Linked DNA regions of Homo sapiens: region 1 is linked to region 2. The links come from fine-mapping of genetic effects on gene expression. A gene starts in region 2. The other region holds a variant in brackets. All regions are shown on one strand. Distances are from middle to middle. Region 1 holds the start of TRAF3IP3 (TRAF3 interacting protein 3). Region 2 holds the start of LAMB3 (laminin subunit beta 3).

Region 1 (2,904 bases), 100 kb after region 2:
AGAGTGAAACTCCGTCTCACTCTGTCGCCCAGGCTAGAGTGCAGTGGCACATTCTTGGCTCACTGCAACCTCTGCCTCCCAGGTTCAAGCGATTCTTGTGCCTCAGCCTCCCAAGTAGCTGGGTTTACAGGCACATGCCATGACATCCGGCTAATTTTTTATATTTTTGGTAGAGATGGGGTTTCACCATGTTGGCCAGGCTAGTCTTGAACTCTTGACCTCAAGTGATCCACCCACCTGGACCTCCCAAAGTGCTGGGATTACAGGTGTGAGCCACTGTGCCCGGCCAAAATTCTCTTTTTCTGACATCTTGGGCTCCCCAAGCCCTCTGTCCTCTACTCATTCCCATCTCTATGTGTCAAGCTCCAGACACAGGGCCTTGAGCTGTTGTCTCTCATCCTGAGTAAATGCCACTTGTCTTCAGTCCTAGTGCTTGAGAATCCATCCTCTGCTTTTCCCTGCCGATTCCTTGTCCTTTTTCTCCTCAAAGAACAGAGAAAGAAGCAGAAGCAGAGAAAATGGTGACAAACTCTCCACATGTTAATAAATGTTATCACAGCTATTTTTAAGTCTCATTACCTGCCTCACATGTGTCAAACCTTAGAATTCCAAAGAGCCACATACATCACCCAACTACCACAGTGAGTAGCATCCAGACAAGGTGAATTTTACAAGGTTACAAAGCTGCTCAGTTAACTTGTCCCAATCCAGTTTCCTCTCCACTATTTTAGCCTGAACTTCTTGGGAATTTCCTGGCTGCATCATTTGTGATGGCTTCATCTTAATGCATGCAAATCAGTTCCCTTTAGTTTTTCCCTAAATTTCCTAGTCCGGTTGACCAGATAAAAAAATGTGTAGAAGACTCTGCCTTCTATTCCTTCCTTCATCCCCCAGCTACCCACCTTTACACTCCCTCCTCATTGCTCCAGAAAGGAGCAAATCCAGAGTTGGTCTCATTCCAGAATCTGAGAAAGACACCACCTACTTCAGAAGAGCAGAAACTCTTTACAACACCAGGATTGGGAAGAGGTGGCTAAAGAAAAAGGAAAATCCTTACACAAAGAACTACCTGATACACATGAAAGCCTACACTGAGAACATCTCATCTAGGTCTTACCACCAAAAAGGCATTTTTTTCCCTCTCATAGAAACCACAAAGGTCTGAATCTGACCCAGAGGACTATCCTTTTCTAATCATGGAAAGGAATCTTGACTTGAAACTGTCCAAGAGCTCCGACCAATCCAGTAGCAAGAGAAAGGGTGGCCGGGGTGCCTACTGATGGGAGGAGCTCCTGAGCCCAGCCCTGGAGGCCTCAGAGTTCAGGGGCCCACTTAGATGATACCAGAGAGCAAGAGAGAGGAACTGGGGTTTGCGAACCTTGTGGCTTTGTCTGTTTCCTGTTTCAGCAAGGCTGCTGTGCAAAAAGAAAGACGGTACCAAGAAGGGACGTGTTAATGGGGCCCAGACCTATGGATTGAAAGCGTGTGCTTTACCCATCTGCTGTCTTGCTCCAT[C/A]TGAGACCAGAGCCAAGATCTGCCCAGGACTGGAATGCTTTCCCGAGTGGCTTGAGTTGGAGCCTGGGACTAGGAGGTAACTGAGAAGGAGGATGCTTTTGTGTCCAGGTTTGGGAACTCCAACTTCGGGGTAGGGCAGAAGATGCTCTACCATCCCAGCTCCCCTGGGTGGAGAGTGGGTGGCATAGTTTAAGGGTGTCAGGGGTTTGGGTAACCAAGAAAGTATCCTGTATTGGTTTCCTGTGGCGCTAGCCATGGCACAGGGTACAGCTTGCACCACTCCTCTGTTCCAGTAGATTAGATTACATTAGATTAGGAGTGAGTCAAACGACTTAGAGTTCAGGCTACCCAGTGATATGGGCATGAATTAAATGACCTTTTACAGTTTTCTTCAAAGCAGGGATCCCTGAACACAAGACTGCCTTCCCAGCAGCTTAAGCGCAGGCCCCTCTCCCCTCAGTTCACACTGAGAGCTCTGGGCCAGGAAGGCCAACCCATGCAGGAAGCCATTCATTGTCTCCATTACAAACATGGCCAGGAAGTAAAAGCGAGACTCAGAAAGGCATGTCAAGCCACAGTCAGGTGAGGAGCCATGCCCTGTTCTCTCTCTGCAGCCTGAGAGACCAGGCTGAGCCTTCCCAGCCAGTAAACCTTCTTCCTCCAAGCTCTAAGTGAGCCCAGTCATGCTGCCAGGGGGGAACCTGAGAGATGCCAGAAAGCCTGGGCAGTGGCCAAGTGATCTTTCTTTGAACCCTACAGGGACCAGTTCCCTTTTCTTTAGCAGCCTACCCCTGTCAGCCGTCCCACATACCTTCTTGTTTTCAAGCAAGTCAGTAGGGTCCAGATATCCCAGAAACCTGGGTAGGGTTCTATGCAGCATGCTGCACCAAATCCTAGCAGGTGTGGTAGCCAAGGCATCTGGGAACACTCCCCTCTCTAAGGAGCCATTTCCACTGCAGCTCCTTTCTTGGGTAAGAAGGCTCCATGTCTGCCCCAAGGAAGCAGAGAGCAGAGCAGCTGTGTGTTTCAGTGGACTAAGGTTGGTGGCCTGGGTGGAGAGCCCAGAGAGACCTCATCTCAGGCACTGTCTTCTCCCCCACAGCCCTTTCCTCTTCGCGGCAAGAAGGTAGGAGGATTCTCAATGTTCTGCCTCCACTACAAAACCTGTGGGGAAGCTGAGCCAAACAGGGAGGGGACCTCACACCTTATGTGTGACACAGGCAGACCCCATCTCTTCCTTACCTTTCGGCTTGGTGTAATTGGGATGGCAATTATGTCCAGACCACAGAGAAGCCTTTCTCCTTATAGCCCAAACCCAGAGGTCAGAAGTAAATGTGACTTCAGCCTGGGGCCAGCATCCCCTCAATCTGGTAAACAATATACTCTGTC
Region 2 (2,882 bases):
CCTAGAGCACACTAGCCCTTTTTCTTTTCTGTTTCTAGACTCAAGTATTTTTCAGAAGTCTTTACCTAGGGTCCTGATCTAGGACACTTGGAGCAGCAGATACATTTGTAGCTTGGAAAATGCTGGAGCTCTAGACCCTTGTCTCAAGTGGCATGTGACTCACAGGGTGCCCTGGGAAAATCCCATCCCTTCCCAGACTCCAGCTTCCTCCTCTAAAATGGATGGGAAGGAGTGTGGACCCTGCCCTACCCCACACAGCCGTAAGGACAACGTGGGGAGCAGGAAAAGGCTGGACCCTTTGCAGGAGAAAAGCTGTAGAAAGGGCCAAGACCTAGTTCCAGCCCCAAGAGAGAGGGCTGGCTTTTCTCAGGGCCTAGACCAGCAGCCTCAACCCAGCCCCGCCCAAAGTGAATGAGTCAGAGTGGCTGACGGCCTGGAGGCAAACCTTCTCCTGTCACGGGCATGGCCTCCAATACCATTCAGGGCCACTTTGAGTTTGAGGCTCTGTGCCCACAATTCTGGGATGCAACAGGGAGAGATGTATGGCTGTCTTTAACAAGTGAGTGAGGGTTTCTTCTGAAAGGGAAGCAACCCAAAATGTCTTCAATGATGGGCTGGGGCTCGACAAGAGGGGTGGGGCTGGGAGGCCACAAAGCAGGGATTCTGAAGGAGGCTGGGGAAGGATGCTCGAAAGCCACCGTGGGGTCCCAGAGGCAGGCCTGCCTTGTGGAAACATGCCCCACCCTTGCTCATGCAGTGACCCTTCTGCCTTGAATTGGATGTTCACTCTGTTCCAATGACAGCCACAAACTCTTTTGGCTGGGGTGGAGGGCTGGGGGCTTGGCAAGGCAGGGGCGGGGGGGGAAATTGAGGACATTTCTGGCATCTTTAAATTATAGATCCTAATGCTTCAAAATCATTCCTTCCAATCCCTCTCCTAAAAGAGTCATGGGCCCAGGGAGGGAACATGTGGCCTGGGGTCCCACAGCTAACGATGGCCTAAGAGAGACCCATCTTCTGACTTTCATCCAGTGCTTTCTCAGCTTTCCCACCCCTGACTGAAAATCCCCCTGCAAGTAGGCATTCTGAGCCAGGCCAGCCCACCCTTCTCACTTCTCTTTTGTGCTCAACCCCGGATCTGAACCTGCTTTCTTCTAAGCCACTGAGGTGCTTATCAAATGTGAAAAAGAAATCAAAACTGTAGCAGACATTTTAACCTAGCTCACCTGAGTGAGCTCCCAGGAAGAGGAATAAATCAGGCCCTGAAACCAGGCCCCAGGCATCCAGAGATACAGTCCTCCTCCCGCATCCGGCCCGCACCAGGCAGGTAAAGACAGGTAACATACCTTGCTGTGTGTTCTGCCGTTCTTTCTCCAGATCGCCTGAAAGCTCCTCTTGAATGTGGGGGTCTCCCCTCCCGGCTCCAGGTTTTTAAACAACAGCCTCACCTCTGGAGACTCCCTGGCTGGGTGTAGCCCCACCGCAGGGCGGGTCTCAGGAATCTGGCAGCCGTCACACCCATCTGTCGTCACTGCACCCCCACCTCCCAGGACGGGACTGGGCAAGTGGGTTGGTCGGTCCGTCCCAGAGTTCTTGTAGTGAGCTCCACAATGCCCACCTGCCTGTGGGGGCTGCAAGGGGCCCCTCAAACAGAAAGCACAAGGCACATGTAAGTGATCATCAGAGACCAGAATTCACAGGGTGGGGAAGGGCCCTTGCATTTGTGCCAGGCAATGAACTCAGCATTTTCCCAAAGCCAGCAGGGGTCAGCTTCTTCTTGTGACCTGGACCACCCCAGACAGAAGATCAGGCAGAGAACACAAAGATTAGGGCTTATATAGAGAGTTAAAGCTCCAGACATATCACCGGGCTGGAAGGTGAGAAGACTCAAACATCCAGGACCCTGGAAAGCACCATTCCCCTCCCCAGTGAAAAAAAAAATGAAAAATCCCAGCTTCTTGGGGCATTTGGAGGATCCTTAAAAGGCAAGGTTCATCAGGAAGGATTCAAAGCTCAACTCATCCAAGGAAAGCTTAAGAGAAATGAGCAGAGTAACTAAATGGCTCGCCTCCAGCTCCCTCCACAGGGTTGGCAGGGAGCCCTGGGACAGGTAGCTGCCTGTGAGTCACTCCTCCCACCTGTGGGGAGGGTTAGTCTCCTAGCCCCTCCCTCCCTAGGCAGGAATGCCCGCCTGGAGGGCCAGAAAACAGACCTGACCACAAGTGGTGGAAGGAAAGGCTGAAGCATAGCTTGACTGACAAAGTCAAAACAGACTTTCCCTGGCCTCCTGCCAGGCCTGAGAACACAGCTTCTTTTGTGGGCTCCTTGCTCAGGGATCCTGGGCTTCCAGCCACTGTAAATGGAAGTGGCAGGTCCAAATTGAGAGGCTGGTCTCACAGGACACTCTTTCCCCCAGGTTAGGGTCAGAGAGCTTTTAGGGAAACCTGGAGGGTCAGCCAGTCCATATCTTGGCCCTGGAGAGCCTGCACTGGCACCGTTTTGGAATGCTAGGACCTCAAAGCTACTATTTAAAGGAGCTTCTTAACTACGATTCCACTTTGTTAGTGTCTCCTAAACAGAAAGTTCTCCACCATTGGAGGGTTATGTCCAAGAAATTGGCTTGAAGACCCTTAAGGGGGAAATGTAGAATTTTGTGGATTAAATTGGGCATTTCTAACCCTCAGATTCGAATTAAGCATAAGTTCAGGTAGGCAGAAGAAATAGTGTAATTAGCAAGTGGGCAGTGAGTTGTTGATGTAAGTTGATGCATAATTGATAGTCCAATAAATGTTAGAGTCTTGCCCCCTGTAAGCATTCCAGTGAAATCTAGCTCAACTCAGCAAGTAAGGTCAGTAGAAGCAGTGTCCCTTCAACACAGAGAG

The links. PIP is the estimated chance that this variant, and not a neighbour inherited with it, causes the effect.
Region 1: its variant is fine-mapped to the expression of LAMB3 in whole blood (TOPMed, PIP above 0.99).

Annotation. Positions count from the first base shown.
Region 1 is chr1:209,754,719-209,757,622 of GRCh38, forward strand. TRAF3IP3 (TRAF3 interacting protein 3) reads left to right here and starts at 1,335. Exons shown (of 17, transcript NM_025228.4): 1 at 1,335-1,591. RefSeq lists enhancers at 1,058-1,217, 1,498-1,907. The variant C/A (reference allele first, on the strand shown) is at 1,516.
Region 2 is chr1:209,651,023-209,653,904 of GRCh38, forward strand. It overlaps LAMB3 (laminin subunit beta 3), which reads right to left and starts at 1,403. Exons shown (of 23, transcript NM_000228.3): 1 at 1,347-1,403. RefSeq lists an enhancer at 905-2,104.